Linked DNA regions of Homo sapiens. The protein of the gene in region 3 purifies or fractionates together with the protein of the main gene of each other region. This does not show direct contact. Each region holds a gene or a part of one and is shown on either strand. Other genes may lie near its edges.

Evidence for each region.
Region 1: the proteins of PPEF1 (region 3) and SLC25A3 purify together in Homo sapiens (affinity purification with mass spectrometry; one large-scale study listed by BioGRID and IntAct). This does not show direct contact.
Region 2: the proteins of PPEF1 (region 3) and GLUD1 purify together in Homo sapiens (affinity purification with mass spectrometry; one large-scale study listed by BioGRID and IntAct). This does not show direct contact.
Region 4: the proteins of PPEF1 (region 3) and CALU purify together in Homo sapiens (affinity purification with mass spectrometry; one large-scale study listed by BioGRID and IntAct). This does not show direct contact.
Region 5: the proteins of PPEF1 (region 3) and SEC16A purify together in Homo sapiens (affinity purification with mass spectrometry; one large-scale study listed by BioGRID and IntAct). This does not show direct contact.
Region 6: the proteins of PPEF1 (region 3) and DNAJA3 purify together in Homo sapiens (affinity purification with mass spectrometry; one large-scale study listed by BioGRID and IntAct). This does not show direct contact.
Region 7: the proteins of PPEF1 (region 3) and LRPPRC purify together in Homo sapiens (affinity purification with mass spectrometry; one large-scale study listed by BioGRID and IntAct). This does not show direct contact.

The regions. Positions count from the first base shown.
Region 1 is NC_000012.12:98,603,686-98,606,867, reverse strand, and holds the end of SLC25A3 (solute carrier family 25 member 3 isoform b precursor), read right to left. Parts: 3' UTR 501-3,182; downstream 1-500. UniProt on the Homo sapiens protein: Inorganic ion transporter that transports phosphate or copper ions across the mitochondrial inner membrane into the matrix compartment. Mediates proton-coupled symport of phosphate ions necessary for mitochondrial oxidative phosphorylation of ADP to ATP.
Region 2 is NC_000010.11:87,060,344-87,063,843, forward strand, and holds part of GLUD1 (glutamate dehydrogenase 1, mitochondrial isoform a precursor), read right to left. Parts: intron 2,493-3,500; coding exon 2,313-2,492; intron 710-2,312; coding exon 572-709; intron 483-571; coding exon 345-482; intron 1-344. UniProt on the Homo sapiens protein: Mitochondrial glutamate dehydrogenase that catalyzes the conversion of L-glutamate into alpha-ketoglutarate. Plays a key role in glutamine anaplerosis by producing alpha-ketoglutarate, an important intermediate in the tricarboxylic acid cycle.
Region 3 is NC_000023.11:18,805,145-18,808,644, reverse strand, and holds part of PPEF1 (serine/threonine-protein phosphatase with EF-hands 1), read right to left. Parts: intron 2,243-3,500; coding exon 2,100-2,242; intron 1-2,099. UniProt on the Homo sapiens protein: May have a role in the recovery or adaptation response of photoreceptors. May have a role in development.
Region 4 is NC_000007.14:128,756,359-128,759,858, forward strand, and holds part of CALU (calumenin isoform a precursor), read left to right. Parts: intron 1-2,512; coding exon 2,513-2,679; intron 2,680-3,433; coding exon 3,434-3,494; intron 3,495-3,500. UniProt on the Homo sapiens protein: Involved in regulation of vitamin K-dependent carboxylation of multiple N-terminal glutamate residues. Seems to inhibit gamma-carboxylase GGCX. Binds 7 calcium ions with a low affinity.
Region 5 is NC_000009.12:136,462,541-136,466,040, forward strand, and holds part of SEC16A (protein transport protein Sec16A), read right to left. Parts: coding exon 3,422-3,500; intron 2,023-3,421; coding exon 1,880-2,022; intron 1,201-1,879; coding exon 1,139-1,200; intron 1,062-1,138; coding exon 923-1,061; intron 593-922; coding exon 347-592; intron 1-346. UniProt on the Homo sapiens protein: Acts as a molecular scaffold that plays a key role in the organization of the endoplasmic reticulum exit sites (ERES), also known as transitional endoplasmic reticulum (tER).
Region 6 is NC_000016.10:4,432,368-4,435,867, reverse strand, and holds part of DNAJA3 (dnaJ homolog subfamily A member 3, mitochondrial), read right to left. Parts: intron 1,485-3,500; coding exon 1,351-1,484; intron 1-1,350. UniProt on the Homo sapiens protein: Modulates apoptotic signal transduction or effector structures within the mitochondrial matrix. Affect cytochrome C release from the mitochondria and caspase 3 activation, but not caspase 8 activation.
Region 7 is NC_000002.12:43,943,990-43,947,489, forward strand, and holds part of LRPPRC (leucine-rich PPR motif-containing protein, mitochondrial precursor), read right to left. Parts: intron 3,382-3,500; coding exon 3,268-3,381; intron 2,255-3,267; coding exon 2,124-2,254; intron 1,429-2,123; coding exon 1,343-1,428; intron 1-1,342. UniProt on the Homo sapiens protein: May play a role in RNA metabolism in both nuclei and mitochondria. In the nucleus binds to HNRPA1-associated poly(A) mRNAs and is part of nmRNP complexes at late stages of mRNA maturation which are possibly associated with nuclear mRNA export.

The DNA.
Region 1 (3,182 bases), on a different chromosome or scaffold from region 3:
GTTGGGTATACCATATTTTCAGATGTTAATGCTTCCTTGAGATTTAGCAGTTTTAACCTTGACTAATATAGCCCTCTAGTGTTAAGATCATGGGTCTTGGAATAATGATATGGCCTGTCACATGAATTATTTTCCATCTTCAAACTTTGCAATACACTGGATTCTGCAAAGCAAGCTGGCTGATTTGAACATCAAATTATTATTCACAGTATTAGGTAGGAATTATATCTTGTGTAAGAGACACATCCCCAAGGCTCTTTCATTCAGTGTAGCAATACTTATTAAGTGACTATTGCATACTGCACTTCAGTGTCTATAAAAACACACATGAAAACTCTGGAATAGCTGCTTTCTAGGAAACTTGTCAGGTCACACCTTAATAACCAGGAGATTCATAAACCTTATCAGTGGTGAGGTTAACATCTCATGCACTTCTATGAACACCTCTGAGAATGTGAAGTCAGGGCTGGCTTGTAAAAGACAAATGATTCAACACATAGTTTGAACTTTTATTTATGTTTAATTTTTTAATTTTTACAAGATGCCGATAGTAGCTGGCTTATTAATGTACATTATTCTTTGATATTTCAGGAAGCCACAGTGTTCAACTGTGAACTACAGAGTCCTGTAAGTTTAAAATAACTTTGTTTCTCAACTATGTGATATCCAGGATTTTTTACAATTACTTTGAGATTTTTCCTCATCAGTAATGCAAAGAAAATTGCAATATGATTATACAATTTATTTTTATTTTTTTAGACAGGTTATCACTCTGTCGCCCAGGCCGGAGTGCAGGGGTGTGATTGTAGCTCATTGCAGCCTCAAACTCCTGGGCTCAGACGATCCTCCTTCAGCTTCCTAAGTAGCTGAGATTACAGGCACGTGCCACCATGCCTGGCTAATTTATTTTTTGTAGAGAGAGGGGTCTCACTTTGTTGCCCAGGCTGGTCTCCAACTCCTGGGCTCAAGTGATACCCAGCCTGGGCCTCCCAAAGTGCTGGGATTACGGGTATGAGCCACTGTGCCCAGCCTGATATACAATTTCTTCCTCAGACAGTCTGGCTCTGTCGCCCAGGCTGGAGTGCAGTGGCACAATCTTGGCTCACTGCAACCTCTGCCTCCCGGGTTCAAGCAATTCTCCTGCCTCAGCCTCCCGAGTAGCTGGAATTACAGGCATGCACCACCATGCCTGACCAATTTTTGTATTTTTAGTAGAGACCTGGGGTTTCATCATGTTGGCCAGGCTGTTCTTGAACTCCTGACCTCAAGCAATCCGCCCACCTCAGCCTCCCAAAGTGCTTGGATTTCAGGAGTGAGCTTTTGCACCTGGCCTGATATACAATTTCTGATGCTATAGAAGCAATGTATAACTCCTAATTTACTAGTGACTGCTATGCGCTTCATTAACATTATGGACATGTCGATCCCAAAAATCATATAGAAATGTTACTTTTTTTTTGAGACAGGGTTTCACTCTGTCGCCCAGGCTGGACTGCAATGGCGTAAACATGGCTCACTGTAGCCTCAACCTCTCGGGCTCAAGCAATCCTCCTGCCTCAGCCTCCCAAATAGTTGAGACTACAGGCATGTGTCACCACACCCCTTAATTTTTGTATTTTCTTTTCTCATTATGTTGTCCAGGATGGTCTCAAACTCCTGGGCTCAAGGCATCCTCCTGCCTTGGTCTCCTAAAGTGTTAGAATTACAGGCATGAGCCACTGTGCCCAGCCAGAAATGTTAAACTCACTTTATGGTTTCAGAACAAGGATCAAATAAAATAAAAATATAAAAAATAAAATATGGTTGGCCAAGTGTGGTGGCTCAGCCCTCTAATCCCAGCCCTTTGGAAGGCCAAGGCAGAAGGCTCGCTTGAGCTCAGGAGTTCAAGACTAGCCTTGGCAACATAGCAAGACCTCATTTCTGCTAAAAATAAAAAACATTAGCCAGACATGGTGGTCCACACTTGCAGTCCCAGTTATTCAAGAGGCTGAGGTGGGAGGATCACTTGAGCTTGGGAGATCGAGGCTGCAGTGAGCTATCATCGTGCCACTGCACTCCAGTCTGGCGACAGAGCAAGACCTTCTCAAAAATAAAATATGGTCGAAACGGGACAGACAAGGCGGCTACCTGTAACCCTGGCCGCTTTAGGAGCTGGGGCAGGAAAGTTGCTTGAGGCCAGGAATCCGAGACCAGCCTGAGCAACAGCAGGACCCGTCTATGAAAAAACAGGAGCAAGTAGTGGCACATCCCAATTGTGTCAGCTAACTGGGAGGCTGAGGCAGGAGGATCGCTTGAGCCCAGGAGTTCAAGGCTGTACTCCAGCCTGGGCGACAAAGCAAGAACCCTGTTCTCTAGGGAAAAAAAAAAAAAAGTCAAAACATTTCATAAAACTTTCACACAATGGAGGTTTAGTTAAGCTGTTACTCTTCTGTTCAATTTTGTTGCACCTATCAGAAGGCATAATTTCATAAAATCAGGATTCCTTGGCGTTTTAACCACTCTCAAAATATTTGATCCTACTGGAAGTTACTATGCAATGCTATCTTGTCCCTGAATCAACATAATTCAACTATCAGCTTCATATATATATATATATATATATATTTTTTTTTTTTGAGACAGAGTTTCGCTGTTGTTGCCCAGGCTGGAGTGCAATGGCGCAATCTTGGCTCACCACAACCTCCGCCTCCCGGGTTCAAGCGATTCTCCTGCCTCAGCCTCCTGAGTAGCTGGGATTACAGGCACGCACCACCACCGCAGCTAATTTTGTATTTTTAGTAGAGACAGGGTTTCTCCATGTTGGTCAGGCTGGTCTTGAACTCCCGACCTCAGGTGATCCACCCGCCTCGGCCTCCCAGAATGCTGGGTTTACAGGCATGACCCACTGTGCCTGGCAGTTTCGTGTATTCTTACTCCACTGGGTTCTGCTTTATCGTATTGACAGTAGACATTTCATTAAATGAAATGTAAAAAGAACACCAATACATACATATTAAAATTTTCTTACTAGAATCTTTTAGTATAATTTAAAAACCTGAAATGAGAATTCGCATCACTTTAAGTGGGCCTCTTGGGTTTTGAGGATGAAGTGGCTTTCTCTCAGAAATAGCTTTGAACCGTAACTCTAGTAACTACAGTGGCAGGCTCCATAGCTTGAACACAGCGTATTTTGTATCAATGCC
Region 2 (3,500 bases), on a different chromosome or scaffold from region 3:
AGCACAGTTTCAGTTAAAGTTAAATAGAGGTTATTTTTCTCTGCCAAGTGTATAAAACTACCTTTCACTTTTCTATTTATCTAGGTTTTTTTTTTGTTTGCTTGTTTTTTTTTTTTACAGGAGTGTCAGGCAGATGCGTTTGTTTTGGTAATGGTTGCACAACTCTGTGCCGGTAGCTAAAAGCCATTAAATTATGTACCTTAAATGGGGGAACTGTATGGTATGTGCAGTATGTGCCAATAAAGCTGCTAAAAAGAAAGAGAAAACTCAATCAGACTCTTCTATGACCCCCCTAACGTCATTCACATTGATAATGTTGGTTCTGGTTTCTATAATGTTGTCACCTTGGCTTTGACTCTGGGTGCGTTGGATTTGGTCAACTGCTTCTCACTGGCAGCTGGGATCAGTATGTCACAGTCGGCCTCCAAGATGCTTCCTTCATAGGGCTTTGCCTTGGGGAAGCCCAGAATGGACCCATGTTGCTGCCATTGATTGAAAATCACAATTAATAGCTGCACCAGAGTTTTAAATATTTATATTTAGTGTCTATGCTATAAAAATGTATTAATACCAATTTGAAGTCTTCCAGTTCCTTTGGGTCAATACCATCTGGATTCCATATACTCCCATCAGACTCACCAACAGCAATACATTTAGCACCAAAACGATGTAAATATCTCATAGAGTGTAGGCCCACATTACCAAATCCCTGTGAAGAACAATTACCCATAACACAAAAATTAAAGTCCTGGTATAGACAGCAAGAGTCATATTTTGACCAATGTAAATCCATACTCTGTTTATTTAGAAGCAATTCTCAAAATTCTTTTGCCAAAAGAAACAATGTACTAACTGGTTTCTCTTCAACAATAAAATTCTCTGTTTAAGAATGTGATGAGCGGGCATGGTGGCTCACGCTTGTAATTCCAGCACTTTGGGAGGCTGAGGCAGGTGGATCACTTGAGGTCAGGAGTTCGAGATCAGCCATGGCCAACATGGTGAAACCCCGTCTCTACTAAAAATACAAAAATTAGGCATGGGGTCCGTGCCTGTAATCCCAGCTACTTGGGAGAATGAGGTAGGAGAATCACTTGAACCTGGGAGGTGGAGGTTGCAGTGAGCCGAGACTGCACTCCAGCCTGGGCAATAGGGTGAGACTCCATCTCAATCAATCAATAAATGGCAGTGGTGTTAAGTACACCACCAGGTCCTCAGTCCTTGATGATCAGATGTCCTATGTTGTGAAAAGGGATGTCACTAATTTGGAGAAATACAATTTTTTTTTTTTTTTGAGACCGAGTCTCATTCTCTCACACAGGCTGGAGTGCAATGGCACAATCTTGGCTCACTGCAGCCTCTGCCTCCCGGGTTCAAGTGAGTCTCCTGCCTTAGTCTCCTGAGTAGTTGGGATTACAGGTGCCGCCATCATGCCCAGCTAATTTTTCTTTCTTTTTTTTTGAGACAGAGTCTGGCTCTGTCACCCAGGCTGGAGTGCAGTGGCGCAATCTCGGCTCACTGCAAGCTCCACCTCCCGGGTTCAAGTGATTCTCCTGCGTCAGCCTCCAGAGTAGCTGGGACTACAGGCGTGTACCACCACACCCTGCTAATTTTCCTATTTTTAGCGGAGACCGGGTTTCACCATGTTGGCCAGGATGGTCTTGATCTCTTGACCTCGTGATCTGCCCACCTTGGCCTCCCAAAGTGATGGGATTACAGGCGTGAGCCACCACGCCCGGCTTAATTTTTCTACTTTTAGTAGAGACAGGGTTTCACCATGTTGGCCAGGCTGGTCTCGAACTCCTGGCCTCAAGTGATCCACCCGTCTTGGCCTCCCAAAGTGCTGGGAATACAGGCATGAGCCACTGTGTCCAGCCACCACTTCTATTTTCAAGTAATTTCAACTTAATTAAGATTCTCCTAAGTAAAATACATGTTAACACATGAAACAAATTTGGGTCAGTGTGTAAACCTTTCTATATACTTACAAAACTTAGAAAATTATGTTAAGAGACTTGCCCTTCTAGCTATAATTTCAAGTTTGAATACTAACCAATATTTTGGTTGAATTTGGTGATAGTTTGGTTGAAGTTGGTAACAGTTTCACATGTACTTGAGAGATACTTAAATCAGTTCTAGTTACATGAATCATACCAAGGTTCAAAAAACAAAATATCTATTACTCTGAAAACCACCACTCTAAAATTTAAGAGATTTGAGATAACTTAATTTTAAAATTACAATTCTAAAAACATTGAAAACTTTACTTAATGTCTATCAGTTATTAAGGAAACTTTTTTTGTTTTTGTTTTTACCTGAACAACAAATGTTTTATCTCCAAACCCTGGTGTCATTCCTAAAATGCTCATGTAAGAAGCTTCATTGATGAAATTTTCAATCCCATGGAAGACACCACGGCCAGTAGCAGAGATGCGTCCATGGATTCCCCCTTGGCTGATGGGTTTACCAGTAACACAGGCGTGTGCATTAATATCCTGTAAGAGGGGGTAATTGAAAGAATGAAATGTCAAGTCCAATTTCTCTGTTGAAGGAACATAATGAATTAAAGTCAAAGCACATTCTCATTTAATCAAAAATATGCTAATTAGGAGTGTGTGTATGAATGTATTTAAGGTATACTTTTACCAATAGAGACAAGACTCACTTTTTCAGCTTTCTGTTCCTAGAAAATACAATAAAATATACTATATTTTCTGTTTTTTTTTTTGTTTGTTTGTTTGTTTGTTTTTGAGACGGAGTTTCACTCTTGTTGCTCAGGCTGGAGTGCAATGGTGAGATCTTGGCTCATCGCAACCTCCACCTCCCAGGTTCAAGCGATTCTCCTGCCTCAGCCTCCTGAGTAGCTGGTATTCCAGGCACGTGCCACCACGCCCGGCTAATTTTGTGTTTTTAGTAGAGATGGGGTTTCTCCATGTTGGTCAGGCTGGTCTCAAACTCCTGACCTCAAGTGATCTCCCTGCCTTGGCCTCCCAAAGTGCTAGAATTACAAGCGTGAGCCACCACGCCCGGCAAAGTAGACCATATTTTCTGACAGAAAAAACAAGAGTGTAGGGATTGAACATCAAGTAAGTACAAATAACATCACAAAAGTAGAGCTAGCTCAGCCTAAAGCTATCATTCCTTCAACAAGTATTTAAGCACTACTAAATCAAGGTACATACACATCCCATTCATGAGTGTCTTAAAATCTACTATAAGACTTGAGCATGTCACCAAAACAGAGCCTGAGACAGGAAGAGGCTTTACAATTGTCTTGGATGGGAAGACTCAATGTTGTATTCTGCCACTTTTGAAAAAGGAAGTTTTTAATATAACTTGATACTTAATATAACATGACATTCAAGTTCATCTAAGAGTAGAGTAACGAAAGTATTTAATGAAGTATTTTTAAAAAGGTATGTGTGGGTAAGAGTCCTGTGCTTCTGTGTGAGCAGAGTATCTTTGGTAGCAGTGGTTAGCTCTGCAAAGTGGAGATGGGGGTT
Region 3 (3,500 bases):
ATACCTGTTGGCCATTTGTATGTCTTTGGGAAAATGTCTATTCAGGTCCTTTGCCTATTTTTTAAATTGGATTACTTGGTTTTTTTTTTTTTGCTGTTGAGTCGTATGAGTTCCTTATATATAGGAATGCTAGTTATAGCATTGTTTTTAAATGCAGAATCCTGGAACCAATCTGGATGTCTATCAATTGGATAAGATTTAGTTGCTCCATAACTGTTATGGTACATGTATACTACAGAATAATATGTATGTACTAAAAAGAATGAGTTAGGTCTATCTTTACTAACTTGCGGTGATGTTCATGATAAAATTTTTAGGGGAAAAATTCAGTTGCAGAATACAGTATGCAGTGTGATTCTTTCTTTAAAAAATATACGTACGGCCGGGCGTGGTGGCTCACTACTGTAATCCCAGCACTTTGGGAAGCTGAGGCGGGCGGATCACAAGGTCAAGAGATCGAGACCATCCTAGCCAACATGGTGAAACCCCCTCTCTACTAAAAAAACAAAAATTAGCTGGGTGTGGTGGCGTGCACCTGTAGTCCCAGCTACTTGGGAGGCTGAGGCAGGAGAATTGCTTGAACCCAAGAGGCAGAGGTTGCAGTGAGCTGAGATCGCACCACTGCACTCCAGCCTGGCAACAGAGCAAGACTCCGTCTCAAAAAAAAAAAAAAAATGTACGTACAGGCTGGGCGTGGTAGCTCACACCTGTAATCTCAGCACTTTGGGAGGCCGAGGCGGGCAAATCACCTGAGGTCAGGAGTTCAATACCAGCTTGGCCAACAAGGTGAAACCCCGTCTCTACTAAAAATACAAAAATTAGCCCAGCGTGGTGGGGCATGCCCGTAGTCCCAGCTACTCGGGAGGCTGAGACAGGAGAATCACTTGAACCCAGTAGGTGGAGGTTGCAGTGAGCCAAGATCGTGCCACTGCACTCCAGCCTGGGCAACAGAGCAAGACTCCTTCTTTAAAAAAAAAAGTATGTACATTGTTTATCGTCTTTCTCTTCACACTGAGATATGTGTTTGATGAGGGGACTTCAGCCTATCTTATATTATGTATGCCTAGAATAGTATCTGACACATGGCAGGTACTCAAAGGTTTTTTTTAATTCAATGACTGAATAAATGCTTGACTATTTTTGTAAGAGCAAGAAGAGGGTGGAAGGGGCCATTCTAAACTGCCAGTTTTAGTTACCTCTGGGGAAAAGGATAATTGAGAAAGGAGAGAAGTTGTTAACAATTTCTTTATTCTTCTTTGCTTTTTTTCAGTTGTTAACAACAAACATGTTAGTTCTATAATGTAAAAAATCTTAGACCGGGCGCAGTGGCTCATGCCTGTAATCCCAGTACTTTGGGAGGTCAAGGCAGGCAGATCACATGAGGTCAGGAGTTCAAGACCAGCCTGGCCAACATGGTGAAACCCCGTCTCTACCAAAAATATAAAATGTTAGCCAGGTGTTGTGGCGGGCCCTTGTAATCTCAGCTACTCAGGAGGCTGAGGCAGGAGAACAGCTTGAACCTGGGAGGCAGAGGTTGCAGGGAGCTGAGATCACGCCACTGCACTCCAGCCTGGGCTGCAGAGCGAGACTCCGTCTCAAAAAAACAAAAAACAAATGAAAAAAAACAAACAAAAAAAAAACCAAAAAAAACACTTAGAAAGATAATGTTAAAGGGAGAAAAGGAGTATAAGCTACAAATGCCATCACATGGAGAGAGACACTCAACTATTTGTCACATACACTTCTGGATAGAGAAGAGAAAGGGGCAAGACCAGATAGAGCTGTTTGTGGGTCAGAGAAGGTTGTAGGTTGGGGGACTGAGTGGGTGTGGGGATCTTCTTTTCTTTACATTCAGTTACGTTTCTGAGGGCTGACTGCTTTATCCATCTAAAAAGATGTATGAATTTAAAATTGCTCTTTTTGGTTTCAAATATGGGTGCATTCACCACTTGGTGTCTGGAACTATTTACATTTTGTTGATACTAATGAGTAAGCTATAAATGACTCTCTTCACTCACGTGGCTGCTCTTAGTCACGTGGGACTGGTTCTAATGGGTCCGTGATACCAGTGCTCAGCACTCTCGGTATAGTATACACACCTTTGGCGAAGAGGCTGAAAGCACGTTGCTTTAGTTACTTGGTACTGGAAAAATCGAGGAGTTGTACCAGAACATAGTTTGATGTAAGCTCCTCGATTGCTGCCTTCTTCATAATAATTAGAAGCAGAAAATATAGTCACCACCTGGTTAAAGAAAAAGAGGGTCAGGTTCACGTAACATTAGTTCTCAAAAGGTCATTCAATAAGGTCAGAAATAGCTCAATTCTTAAAAAGCAAAAATCAAAGAAGGTTCATAAACCCTGCAAATCATCACAGTCTGATGTGATTTCTATGACTGCATCGGAGGAAAACAAGGCTACTACCCAGTGTCCCCAGCAGCACTAACTCCTGGCCACTCAGCCAATGTCCTCAGCGCATGGCCCTGCATTCTCGGGTACAATTTTAGTGCCAAATCTCAGAATCCTCTTTAATGTTTGATTTTGCAAATTCTTTTTCCAAGGGGATAAATCCCCTATTTTCTTGCCTTGTAATAGTTGAGCATTCAGAACAAAATTTGTCTGGTACTTCGGTTTTTTTCTTCTGCTTGGAGCTGAGTGATTTAGAGGGTTCAGGGCCCCAGAAAGTCAGTGCTTTAAGGGCAGAGGTGCAGTGGCTAGAATAAGGGACCACGACCACTGTCTTGTGAAGGAACTAGCCTTGGGCTGTGGTAGAATATGGGAGGACAATTTTTTTTTTTTTTTTTTTAAGATGGAGTCTCGCTCTCTCACCATGATGGAATGCAATGGCACGATCTCACCTCACTGCAACCTCCACCTCCTGGGTTCCAGGAATTCTCCTGCCTCAGCCTCCCGAGTAGCTGGTACTACAGGTGTGTGCCACCACGCCCAGCTAATTTTTGTATTTTTAGTAGAGACAGGGTCTTACCATGTTGACCAGGATGGTCTCGATCTCTTGACCTCGTGATCCACCTGCCTTGGCCTCCCAAAGTGCTGGGATTACAGGCATGAGCCACCGTGCCCAGCCAGGAGGACAATATTTGTGGGTGACAGGGAACCTGGTTTAGGCCCCGTTCTGTCCTGATGAGCATGTCACTTCAGACAAGCCACTGATGTTTTCTATCTATTTTCTTACTACAAAGAAACCCTAAACAATACTTGCCTTACTCATCTTGGAATGTTAGTATGAGCTGAAAATGAATTAATAAAGGTCAGAAAAACAAAGTGCTGACACAGAGGGAAATGCCACACAACTTGGTGTCCATTTTTATTTATTGCTGTTCACTATAGAAAAAGGTGCATTCCAGGCCAGGCGCGGTGGCTAATGCCTATAATCCCAGCACTTTGGGAGGCTGAGGCAGGTGGATCACCTGAGGTCAGGAGTTTGAGACCAGCCTGGCCATCATGAAACCTTGTCTCTACTAAAAGTTCAAAAATTAGCTGGA
Region 4 (3,500 bases), on a different chromosome or scaffold from region 3:
CGTAATGGGTATTTCTGCTGCCTGAGACTGCATAAGCTGAAGCACTGGCTGGGAAGCAATGTCTTTATAAGGCATCTTTCCCCAGAGGCATGAGGGTGGACAGCACTGAGGGGGTCATGAGTCGGCTTAGAGAAGTGAGGAGTTTTTGTTACTGTGTGTTCTTGATTCAATTTGGAGTTCAGGTATAAATCATCATAGCTCTTAGTTAAAATCTGTCTCAATGAATCCGCTATCCATGAGAGAAAGGTTAACACTGTCTCTGCCACAAGGAAAATATGAAATACTGAGATCTACCCTGCCTATAGCAAAACTAGATCAAGAGCCTACCTAAAGCTGTATACAGGCCAGCTAGGGCCAAAACTGGTGCTTAGGATAAATACAGCATTCCAAGCAGAGCTATAGGAAAATAGGTTTTGTCATTAAAAATAAAGTTTTGGACAGGCACAGTGGCTTATGCCTATAATCCTAGCATTTTGGGAGGCCGAGGCAGAAAGGTTGCTTGAGTCCGGGAATTCGCGACCAGCCAGGGCAACAAAGCCAGACCCCGTCTTTACAAAAAAAATATTAAAAATTAGCCAGGAGTGGTAATACTTGTCAGTAGTCCTAGCTACTTGGGAGGCCGAAGCAGGAGGATTGCTTGAGCCCCAGAGTCCAAGACTGCATTGAGCTATGATTGCATTGCACTCCAGCCTGGGCCACACAGAACAAGGACCTGACTATAAATTAAAAAAAAAAAAAATTGTATCTTCCTGTTTCCCTCCTTATATATATATGTGCATGTTGCTATTAGGCTATTTGAGTCCAGTCACCATTTTTACCTTTTACCCCAAGGAGGGGAGGAGAGCACTTATGTAAGAATCTAGTCTTAAAGTATAAGTTGTCTTGTTATGTTTCTTATTTATGTTACATAGTCCTGAAACCTTGTTTAGAAGAGACACTTTAGTATCTGAGAAAGGCTTGTTTGCCTTACGTTCTCCATCTCAACCTATTATGGCTTTGAGTGTGTGTGTGTGTGTGTGTGTGTGTGTGTGTGTACACAGGATCCCAAAGCCTTATGACTCGTTAAGCTGTCTGACTGAATTTTTGACACTCAATAAAAAATGAAGCTTCAAAATGCTCAACTCTCAAAATAGTACAGTAGTTTTGTTTTTGTTTCTTTAAACTGTGCTTAAAGTATGGAAAGACTGAACAATCTCAAAGGTCAGCAGTAATGATGTTATTCTTAAAGGGGCCCTGTGGGTCTTTTTTATAAAAGCAGTGTCATATCCTTTTTATGTAATCAATATGTTGCAGGAACAATAATTTCTTACCATTAATGTGGTGTCTTTTACTTTTTAAAATATCTTCATGTCTGTTATCTTAATTTGGTTTATACAGGAACGCAGATTGAAAAAGAATTTTATTTTCTGCAGTTAACGCCACATTTTTTCAGCTTAAAAAACTAAATTTCACTTTTCTATATTCTTATATAGAGACTAGATAACTGCTGCTTGTGTAGCTCGATGTCATAACAGATGGGTAGTTCCAAATTCAATTTGGTTGTAATCTAAGGGTTTTTTTTTTTGTATACCTTTGTCAAGTTATTATTGACATAAAGTGAACTGTATGTATTTAAGTGCATAATTGATGAGTTTTGACGTATGTATTTACCAGTGAAACCACCACTGCAATCACGATAATGAGCATATCCATTACCCCCCCAACATTTCCTCATGTCCCTTGGTAATCCTTCTCATTCTCGCCATTCCCCCGTCCCTAGGCAATCACTCATCTGTTTTCTGTGACTCTAAGTTAGTTTGCATTTTCTAGAATTTTACGTAAATGGGGATGAACAATACCTGTCACTCTTGGTAGATTTCTGCGTTGACTGAAAAAAAACAGAATGTGACCTTCAAAGTGGTGGCATTCTATTGCTTGAATCCAAGTGTCCATTATGTGAGGTAGAAGGCCTTTGATTTCTATCTTTTTAATGAGATCCTAATGTTTAATAAAAGTAGCAATAACTGACATTTGTTGAAAGCCAACTATGTGCCAGGCATTGTTCTAAGCACTTAGATATATTTTCTCATTTAAACCTTACAACAATCCTATGAAGCCGGCACCATTGCTAGCTCCATTTTACAGATAAAAGAGACCAAGACACAGGCCAAACAGCTAGAAAATGGTAGAGTTCAAACTCAGGCAGTATGGGACTTGAGAGCCACCACTGCCTTCCAGATGTAACTAGAAAATTCAAGCCTTCTAGTAGCCTTAATACCAATAGTGAAGCATAACAGTGAGTTACATAGTTCAGGAGCCAGAGTTCCATGTGAACTTGGAGCTGACTCTGAGATCTGATGCCTGGAGCTGTAGCCCAAAACTAAATGTCTTTGTACTGCTGCAGTTTTACCTGTGTCATCAATTATTTCTTCCTTGCATGGTTTTATCTTTATTGGAAATTGATTTCCCACCCCACACATTTTCATGTTTTCTGAAAGTCTTTTAAGATTTGACCTAAATTTTTGTTTTCTAGATGATCCAGATCCTGATGATGGATTTAACTATAAACAGATGATGGTTAGAGATGAGCGGAGGTTTAAAATGGCAGACAAGGATGGAGACCTCATTGCCACCAAGGAGGAGTTCACAGCTTTCCTGCACCCTGAGGAGTATGACTACATGAAAGATATAGTAGTACAGGTGGGTGAGATGAAGGATTCTGAACAGGGACTCAGTTTCTCTTTTTGTGGCTTATTCTGTCTTTCCCCTTTAGCCTTATATAGCATATCTTATATATATATATGCTATATAGCATATCACTGTATATGCTATATAAGTATTGGCCAGATTCAGAATCCAAGGTCTGTCACTGTTTTTCTGTGACCTTGATCAAGGTGCCTTGGGCATTCTGTTTAGTATGATAATACCTTCTGTCATATAATGTATTTTGCCATTTCATTGGTAGCTTCATATTGTAAGAATGGGGGGAAATCCCATTATTTAAAATATCCCATGACCAATAGTCAGACATTGAGTAATAACAGTGATACTAAAGAACTCTCACAGAAGGCAGTTACTGACAACATAGACTATCTATAGCTAAACACATAATCACTGGTCACATCTCCTGTTAGTGTGACTTTAGCATGACTAAGGCTACCAGGTAGATCATCATGGGCTTGATGGGATAGTTTGTCATTAAGCAGTGTCAGTGTTCTGTCAGGAAGACTCAGTTATTTTAGATTGAAGCATAGGAAATTGCTCATGTTTTACCATTTCTTGGCTAGAAATGGTTTTAACCATACAGACACACATGCATACATACATACATACATACATACATGTACAAGTGTGTTTAATGAATAATAAATGTTTACCTAAACTAGATACTTTACTTTCTTCTGGCAAATTCAGAGACCAACTTAATAGTCTCTTCTTATTCTTTCCTGTTTAGGAAACAATGGAAGATATAGATAAGAATGCTGATGGTTTCATTGATCTAGAAGAGTATATTGGTAAGT
Region 5 (3,500 bases), on a different chromosome or scaffold from region 3:
TTTGTGAGAATGCCACAACTTGTGTCATGCACATTTCATCCGAGATTTGGCACACACAGCAGGGGCACGGCCTGTGCTCAACATGTGCATTTATCGAATAACTGAAAATTTAATCTGCAGGTCTCCAACACTGGAAACAGTTAGAAGGAAACCAACATTAACACCTCCAGAAGGATGGCATACAAGAGTCAGGCATTGTTCAGGAAACAGCAAGACCCGAAGCCCCACACTGCAGCGCGGATGCTCCCAAGAGGGGGCCACGTCCCTCCCTGAAGGCTGCAACCCCGCACCAGGCCCGACCCAGTGGACATGTGCAGGCGCCAGGTGCCATGATGAGGAGGCGCACCTTCTTACGGCCATACAGCAACAGCTCCCTGAACCTCTCGGTCTCTCTCTCGAGCGAGCTGGCGGCAGCCGCCGGACCACCAGTGAGGAAAGAGAGCTGGGCCTCACCAGACTCCTCCTCTTCCACCTGCTCCACTGCCTCATTCGTGAAATCAATCAGGTTTGCTTCATTGGGCGACTTCCCAGGAAGCCACACTGTTCTGTGGTCTCGTAACAGAAGCTCCGCAATGTCGGTCCCTACCACGGTCTGTTTGGGTCAACAGGAACAGGAAGGAGAACAACGGCTCTCAGGTGAGGACGCGTTGGACCACCACAGGCACAAAGCCCCACCCTGGACACAGCCAGACCCACAACTACCCGAAAGGCTGGCAAGGCTGGGCTGAAACCTCATCCCATCCCAACCGCACGTTCCCTCTCCCTCCCTACCCAGCCACTACAGTGTGCTTCCTAAGGGGGCCCTCGAGGCTCCCATAGCTGGCCACGCGGATCCCGCCCTGCTCCTTCGGGAGGCTGAGCATTCCCAAGACGAAATGAAGACCAGCAAGAAGAAACACTCTAGAAGTAGAAAGAAACATACCCCATTTTGTCTGCATAAGAGAACAATAAAATTCCAAAGAAGACTTGCAGACTCTTTGTCAATTAAGTTTTCATTCTGCAAACATTTCATAGCTTTGTTCTGTGCAAAATTAATGACATCCACCTTATGGGTGTCGTCTCTGCAGAAAGAACACACAGTGAGCAGTGATGTCTGCAAGGCCGGGCTCACAAAGAAATGCCTCAACAAGGAACATACTTGGCCAGGGGTCCCGGGAACGCCCGCATCTCCTCCTGCTCAGACGTGTGCTGCAGCAAGGCCTACGAGGAGAGGGCCGTGGGTCAGTGGCAGCCAGTGCGCAGCCACCCTGCTGGCAGGCCGGCCAACCCAGGCACGGATGCTGCCCGTGAGAGGAGAGGATGGCATGGCCCACCTGCCCCGCCCCACAGCAGGTGAAGGCTCTGTCGAGGCTGTTACATGGAACATGGCCTGTGTGGACCACAGCCATGATTTCAAACTTTATTTTAAGTAGTGAAATCCATTTTCTCTCCCCAAATACTGAGGCAGAACCCCAATACATGTGACAGAAGCCTGCAGAAGCTGCAGGAAGAGGCGCATGCCAGCCCCCGTCACCTCGGCAGCGCCGTGCACGTCCACCCCACCCGCCCCCCTCACCTGGGCAGCACCGGGCCCACCCACTGCATCTATCATTGAAAAGCACCAATAAAGCAAACATCCCCAAAACGAGGACAGAAAATGCATATACAATCAAACCACGTTGAACACCCAAGGCAGACGCTTACAATACTGACTTCTAGGAGGAAAAATATATGATCAAATAGAAGAAAAACCCTACAAATTGAAAATTCACAGGAATAAACATTTTCCAAGGACGTATGTCCAGAGACAAGGTCTGACAATTGAAGATGACAAACTGCAAAGCAGAGAGTTCCCCAGGGCAGCAGAGCAGTGACGCCACGCTTCTGCGTGTGCCATTACCTCCATGCTGTGGACCTCCACCAAGGCCGGCTGTCCTTCTGAAGGCAGATTGGGAATCACTTTGATAAGCTGACCGCCAGGGCCAAACCTGGCACAGACATGAGGCACTGAAAATTTTTCAGGAGAAGTTGGTCTTGATGAAACTGCATTTAAAATAAATTGAAAAAGAAACAATCAGCTTGTCACTGATGCTTCTGAGCCTAGATTTTCAATGTGCTCACACAGCTTAAATCACAGGTTAGATTTATCACGACAGACTTCCAACTCAAAAGTCGGTAATTGTTTAATATCATACTTAAAAGTAGAACTTCAGCATACGTCAGGAAAAGAAAAATGTCTGAATCATTAAGCATGAAAGCTGTTCCCTTGTACACTGAGAAAGCTCCCGCAACACCCTCATGAGCCGCCCTGAGGCTCCTGCCACGGTGCGTAATCCTCCCAGGCCTGGCCCACTCCCGAGCTCTTCCATTTTCACAAAATCAAATTCAGACTGCGATGACCACACAGCACCCAGCAAAAAGGACAGCAAAACACCTCAAGCAAAAAAGAAAATAAGGAGCCAGGCATAGTGGTGCATGCCTGTAATCCCAGCACTTTGAAAGGATCCAAGGCAGGAGGGCCACCTGAACCCAGGAGACAGAGACCATGACCGTGCCACTGCACTCCAGCCTGGGTGACAGAGTGAGACTCTGTCTCTTAAAAAAAAAGAAATGAAAAAATGTTAACTGAAACAATACTTTAAGAAAGTAAGGCCGGGCACAGTGACTCACACTCTAATCCAAGCATTTTGGGAGACCGAGGAGGATGGATCACTTGAGGTCAGGAGTTTGAGACCAGCCTGGCCAACATGGCAAAACCCCATCTCTACTAAAAATACAAAAATTAGCTGTGCATGGTGGCAAACACCTGTAATCTCAACTACTCAGGAGGCTGAGGCAGGAGAATCGTTTGAACCCGAGATGCAGAAGTTGCAGTGAGCCAAGATCACATCACTGCACTCCAGCCTGGGAGACAGAGTGAGACTCCATCTCAAAAAAACCAAAAAACAAACAAACAAAAAAACTCAGCCTACCATTAAATTCTGTAACTTTATATCTTTACGTATATTTCTGCAATTTGCCAAGAAAAAGCATTTGAGCATCCTGGAAGGGAACTCTGACTGACACGCGGGACAACTGCAGGAGCGGAGTCTCCAAGGGGAATGAGCAGCTCCCTCCTGCACGCCTGCTGAGCCACGGGGTCTGCGATGGGGATGTGATCAGGGGCTGCCCAGAGCCTGGATATGAGCTGTCCTCAGAGTCACACTTTAAAACGCATGTCGGGGCAGGCAGGGCAGCTCTCAGGCCTTAAACCAAACTGCAATCGAAGAGACAGCATCGGCCCGTCCTGACACACCCTGCTTCTCGGAAGGACGGATTGGGTCAGAGCCAGGCCAGGACATCACAATTCCAATCCCAGCCCTGACTCCCGTGTTCAGATGCCAGGCTGGGTGGCCGCCCCAGTGGGGTTAGCCGGTATCCCTCTGTCCTGCTGAGCACACACCTTGCTCCATGGCAGGCCAGACGGTGTCGGCAGGGTAGCCATACTCTGGGAAGCCGGGGCCACTGCTGAAATTGCTGCG
Region 6 (3,500 bases), on a different chromosome or scaffold from region 3:
TTACCATATGACTCAGCAACTATACTCCTAAATATCCAAGAGAACTGAAAACATGTCTACACAAAAACTTACATATGAATGTCTATATAGCAGCACTGTTCATGATAGCAAAAAGTGGAAAATATCCAAATGTCCATCAAACGATGAATAAACAAAATGTGATTAATCCATGCAACAGATTATTTGACCATAAAAAGGGATGAAGTATTGACACAAACTATAACACAGATGAACCCTGAAAACATTATGTGAATGAAAGAAGCCAAGACACACAAAAGGATACATATTGTATGATTCCCTGTATATGAATATTGAGAATAGGCAAATCCAAAGAGGCAGGACGCAGATTAGCAGCTGCTAGGGACCGGGGAGAGAGGACAATGGAAGGGGAGTGCTAATGAATACAGAGTTTCTTTTCGAGGTAATGAAAATGTCCTAAAGTTGACTGTGGTGACAGGTGCACAACTCCAGTGAACTGTGCACTTATAAAAAGCTGTCAATCCTACAATGGTGCCTCCAATATTGATTTTATTTTGTTGGTCAGAGCAAACCAAGGGTCTAGGAACCAGTGGTGTAGACATCTCGTATACAACTTTACTCAGCTACCCTAACTACCCTAATAGACCCTGGGATACAATGGGAATTTCACATTTTCCAGGTTAAGAAAGGGCCAGGCGCGGTGGCTCACGCCTGTAATCCCAGCACTTTGGGAGGCTGAGGCAGGTGGATCACCTGAGGTCAGGAGTTTAAGACCAGCCTGACCAACAAAGTGAAACCGCGTCTCTACTAAAAATACAAAAAAAATTAGCCGGGTGTGGTGGCAGGTGCCTATAGTCCCAGCTACTTGGGAGGCGGACACAGGAGAACTGCTTGAACCCAGGAGGCAGAGGTTGCAGTGAGCCAAGATTGCGCCACTGCACTCCAGCCTCAGCAATGGAGTGAGACTCCATCTCAAAAAAAAAAAAAAAAAAAAAAAAAAAAGAAAGGAAAGGAAGTAATTCTAAACCTCTAAACTTTTATCTGGATGCAAAAAATAACTACCTAAAACTTAGACTAGCATATCTACTGATTCAGAAAATACAGATTAAATTTAATTATGAAAACAGCTCTAGAAAAAAAAACTTCTTAAAATCTCTGGTTTGGACTCACCTCTTTTTTCTGAAGCACCAACCTCTACAGCATTGTGCATCGAAAAACAGTCTAGCAAAGTCCAGCTTTATCACACCCTTCTATACTATCAGCTCATGAGACCTATTCATATGGGCACATACGCTGTACTGATCAGGATCACATGGGATCAACAACATTCCTACTACAATTTGGTCACCAAAACCTGACTTCCATACAGACCTGATAATAGGCTTTCTTGATCTCTTTCTGGCTGGCATTTCGAGGCACTCCTAATATCTGATAATAATCTTCTTTGGCCAAAGGGGCACTCGTGTGGAAGGAGGCAGTACAAATGAAAGGGTTATGTTTTGTTCCTAAAAAGGAAAAAACAAAGAAAATCACTCTGGGAATGTTCTCAACAAAAGAAAACTGTGAGTACATGACCCACCAGGCTATATCTGTGAAGGAACAAACAAACTGATAAGGTTTGGCTGTGTCCCCACCCAGATCTCAACTAGAATTTTAGTTCCCATAATCCCCACGTGTCATGGGAGGGACCTGATGGGAGGTAACTGAATCACAGGAGCGGTTACCTCCATGCTGGTCTCGCGATAGTAAGTTCTCATGAGATCTGATAGTTTTATGAGGGGCTCACCCTTTTGCTCATTCTTCCTGCTGCCATGTTAAGAAGGATGTGTTTGCTTCCCCTTCCGCCACGATCGCTGAGGCCTCCCCAGCCGTGCTGAACTGTGAGTTAAATAAACCTCTTTCCTTTAAAATTTACCCAGTCTTAGGTATGTCTTTATTAGCTGCATGAGAACAGACTAATACACAGGCTACAGCTTTAGGGCTGTTCCCTAATGCACTTCAATAATGGCTAAGGAAGCCACAGTATTCAATTAATATTAAACTATGTCAGAGTATTGGATGAGGCTGATTCTCCTCGCTTATACTACTGGAGTGGTCTCAGTAAACCACTAAAGGAATAATACTCCTGACTGGGAGATGATTAAAAAGGGATTCAGCTCCCCCCTCTTATGCCACATGAGCACTTACCATTTGCTAGGTATTTTCATATTTTCATATTTTTCTGTCACATTTAATGCTTAACAACTCCCCACATTCTTTTCCCTCTATCTTGCAGCCTTGGGTATCTACTTAAGGAGCAGTTCTCAAGACTGCGCTCCCTGGACCAACAGCATCATTAGACTGATGAAAACACAGATGTTCAAGCCCTACTCCAGACATTCACCAGAAACTCAGGAGGTCTCCACCCACTAGATGCCAGTAGAGAACTCCCCGTCTCCAGGCATTGCCAAATGTCCCCTGGGAAGTAAAAGTGTCCCCTGCTGAGAACCAATGACAAATCAATCTAAGAAGGTCGGGGAAGAACTTCTAGGCATCAGCTGTTAAGCTGCAGAAACTGGCTAAGCTGCCCAGGAAAGCATTTGCCACTTTCAGTGGAAAACAAATGGCGGTTACTAACTAGGATGACTTTGTACTTTGGATCTGGATTCACAGCACCTTTTTTAATAGCAAGACACCAACTGCTTAAGAAACAAGGATGTTTTAGTTCATCCACTTAACAGATAGGAAGAGCAGGTTTTTTGTTTTTTGAGATGGAGTCTCGCTCTGTCGCCCAGGCTGGAGTGCAGTGGCGCCATCCTGGCTCACTGCAAGCTCCACTTCCCGGGTTCACGCCATTCTCCTGCCTCAGCCTCCCAAGTAGCTGGGACTACGGGCGCCTGCCACCACACTCGGCTAATTTTTTCATATTTTTAGTAGAGACGGGGTTTCGCCGTGTTAGCCAGGATGGTCTCGATCTCCTGACCTCATGATCCGCCTGCCTCGACCTCCCAAAGTGCTGGGATTACCGGCGTGAGCCACCGTGCCCGGCAGGCTTTTTGTTTCTTTGTTTTTTGAGACGGAGTTTCGCTCTTCTTGCCCAGACTGGCGTGCAGTGGTGCGATTTTGGCTCACTGCAACCTCCGCCTGCTGGGTTCAAGCGACTCTCCTGCCTCAGCCTCCCAAGTAACTGGGACTACAGGCGTGTGCCACCACGCCCAGACTGGAGGTGTTTTAATAGATGAAATCTGTTTAAAAAGTGAATAAGCCGGGCCGGGTATGGTGGCTCCTGCCTGTAATCCCAGCACTTTGGGAGGCCAAGGCGGGCGGATCACCTGAGGTCAGGAGTTAGAGACCAGCCTGACCAACATGGAGAAACCCCATCTCTACTAAAAATACAAAATTAGCCGGATGTGGTGGTACATGCCTGTAATCCCAGCTAGTAAGGAGGCTGAAGCAAGAGAATCGCTTGAACCTGGGGGGCAGAGGTTGCAGTGAGCCAAGATCGCGCCATTGCACTCCAGCCTGGGCAACAGGAGTGAAAC
Region 7 (3,500 bases), on a different chromosome or scaffold from region 3:
TTCTAGTGTATAATGCCGATTTCAAGTTAATTACTACTTGCATTTCTAAACGAGACTACAATTATAAATCCACAATAGCATGGTTTTATCATTTCCCTGCAACTTTGACTACAAATTATAGATAGGGACTATGTGCCCACTCTGTACCACATAACCCTGTATGGTCTGCCCTATAGCTGTAAGATCCTCCTAAATGGATGCTTTTATCGTTCAGAGCTAACATCTGCTAAATCACACCATTGTTTCTTCAGCAGATGGCTTGTCAGGAGGCCAGATAATAAAGATGTGTTTACACTGTATATACAGCCAGACTAATGGTCTGATACCGATAGGGCCTGTTTGCTATGTCGATACTAATTAGCCAAGCAGAGCCAATGAAAGCTTTCCAAAAGACTGCATGTTAATACATTAGATTCATTAAGCTTCATTAGGAAGGCAGAAACAAACATTTTAGGATATGGAATAAGTGCATTTTTATAATGTTGTTCTTAATTATTACACAGACAAAATGTTTTGACCACTTTACAAAAAGTGATTTTAAAAAAATAGGCTAATCCTTAGAAAGAGTTAGAAAGGCGTCCTAGGAAAACATTCAATGTTCTAATAAATGATTTTCTCCATACATTTTTCCCTATAATAAAATTAAAACAATCTTTTCTGAAAATCAAAGGAAAAGAGGAAGGCTAAAAAGGAAATTTCAAAATAAAGCCAAATCAGAAAGTTAAGAAACAAGAAAATAGTATGAATGTATTATCAAGTGTAATTAATTTTATTAGGCTTAGCATTATCTCAACGAGAAAATTTGAGTATGCAAATCAGCTGTGTAATCAGCTATGCTTTTTCCATGAACCATTAAATAAAAACCTTAATTAAAATAAAAACTTTAAAGTATATATTTTGTTAATGTTATTAAAAAGTAAGGCAAAGACTACTGCAAAATTCAGGCGCATATATTAGGTTATGTTTATAGGTTTTACGTTTATAGGTTTTACGTTCAGCCTTCAGACCTTCTTAAGCAAAAACAAAGCCATTAGTGCAGGCACATAAGCAAATTGTGCCATAAGTCATGATCTTCAAACTCAATCCAAACAGCAATGCTAATAAAAACTAGCTGCAGAAATGCAAAAAGCACTGAGCTGTGCAAATGTAAATGACAAGCTTGCCAATCCATTAAAACTAATGGCCTACACTGTCCATGTAGCTCTGGTTGGATTCACATGCAAATTTCTATGCAAAGTGTTCAAGCACTTTGCAGGACATGATATCCATTAATATCAATTCACATGTTATTCCAGTGGCAAGATACTTGCATCACATATTTCCTTTATGTGCTGAGGCTTACCTTGGAGCTTGCCATGCTTTGCCAATACTCTTACAAGGCCTACATACTTGCCGGTGTCAAGGACAGCAGATGAATCTAAGCGGTCACTAAAAATTAAAGCCACATTTATATTGTTTTAAAAGTCAATTAACTGCTAAAAGAACAGCAACATCCATTTAATCACTTTTCAAAAGCTCATCAGAAGACCTGAACTAATGTTGGCCTCTACGCTTCAGTTAGGATTTCTTTTTGAAGCCATATACAAGTTCACACGAAATTATATTCAAAGTGACTAGTGAAGTAAAAGCCCAACACTACATATATATTGCATCACTCCATCTGCAAAGGATACTTATGAAGAAACTCTTTGGCTTTAAGTGATTCTAACCTTCATCACGAATACTTGACATTTTTACTTGAAAAATCTAACAGGATAGGAAGCCAAAGGTACCTGAGAAATGGATAGAATTTTATTTACACTACAATATTGAAAGGGAAATGTTATCAAGCCTCTTAAAACAGTTACCACCATCACCACTGTTGTGATGATATATAATCAATGGAAAAAAACCTTTGGTTCTAAGGACTAGAATGTCTTATCATACTTAAACAAAGACACCTTGCTGAACATAAGCCACAATTAATTAAAGAGCCGTATAATACGAAATTTCAAAAACACTGACAACAAAAGAATTTTTAAAAATGACATTATATAAGAGAGTAATATTCCATCTAGATAATCTATCAAGGTCTGTAGAGCAGAATAAATGTTGACAACTTGTTTCAGTGCCAGGGTACTCACAATTCTTCTTTCAAGTTCAAGGCATCTTCTACTTTATCATGTCGACAGCATAAATTTATTAAAGCTGCATAGCCACCAGTAACCATGTCGGATTCATATTTTGCTTTCAATTCAAGGGCTTTTTGCATATTCTAAAATACAGCATAGATGTGAAAAAGAAGAAATCAGTGTGAAGGTAAAAATGTCACATTTTTAGCTTTACTGTTCAGAGTTTAGAAAAAGTTAATAGTACTTTAAAAATAAATGGTTTCATGTTAACAACCTGACTCTGCCCCTTGATATTTTTATTCACCTCTAAGAAGTGGGCAAGTCTTACACGTGTAGGGGTTAAAAGATGTGTTATCTGTAATATAAAATAGGCCATTATTTATGCCAAATTTGATGTTTTAGGCTTTGTGTATGGTATTATTTAAAAAAGACTTCCAGATTAAGTAATTCCCAAATCAAATCCTAATCACAGTCTAATTTCAGGATGCAGAAATATGTATCATTGAAAAGTTTCTCAGTCTAGTTTAGTATCCAAGTAATATGAAGAAATATTTTAGAATTTAACAGTAGCAGATTATAATCATAAAGTTAGTCATGATATTTTTTCCCTAAAACTACAAGTTTATGGCTCAATTATATTGAACTAGAAAGTGAAAAATAGTCTAGTGATATCCCACAAATTGCAGACATACACTAAAATGAACACAAAGTACAGCTGGATGCCCGCTGAAAAAAGGCAAGGGACCCTTTATCTCAGAAAGAGCTTTTTTCCAGCAGGAAAATGGAATTTCAATCCCTGCATTAACAACCTAGTAATATTTGACTTGCAAATGACTACTGCGTGTATCAGTTGCTTGACAATCTAGATATAAGAGACCGGAGCCATGGCTTGAAAGGACATTTGGCATGTATGATAAACCTATCACAGCTGTTACTATCATTCACTTTGCAGATTATCGTAAACAAACTACAGCAACCAGAAAACATGCCATTCAAGGTGTAGCTGAAATTAGTTAACCTTTCATTTAATTGCATTCTTTACAAGCCTGACATATAACGATCAATTGTAAAAATCATAAATATTATATTTGGTTTTTCTTATTGTTACCAAGAATTTTTTGCCTTAATAATATTTAAATATTAAAACAAATGTTACCTCTTCTGAACAAAGCACTAATATGAGTTGCTTTAGGACATCTCTTATAGGTTGATTTTCAGCTTTTAGTGTTTCAAGTGTGGACTCCAATTCAGATGATGTAAGTTGCACAGTCTACAGAAAAGAAAAAAGAAAAGAAAAATTTCCTGAAAAAGGAAATATAGTATGCCTTTTGTCACTCTTCCCTTTAAACTGACTTTCCTTTCTACCTTCCTAAATGTCATAAATGCTAT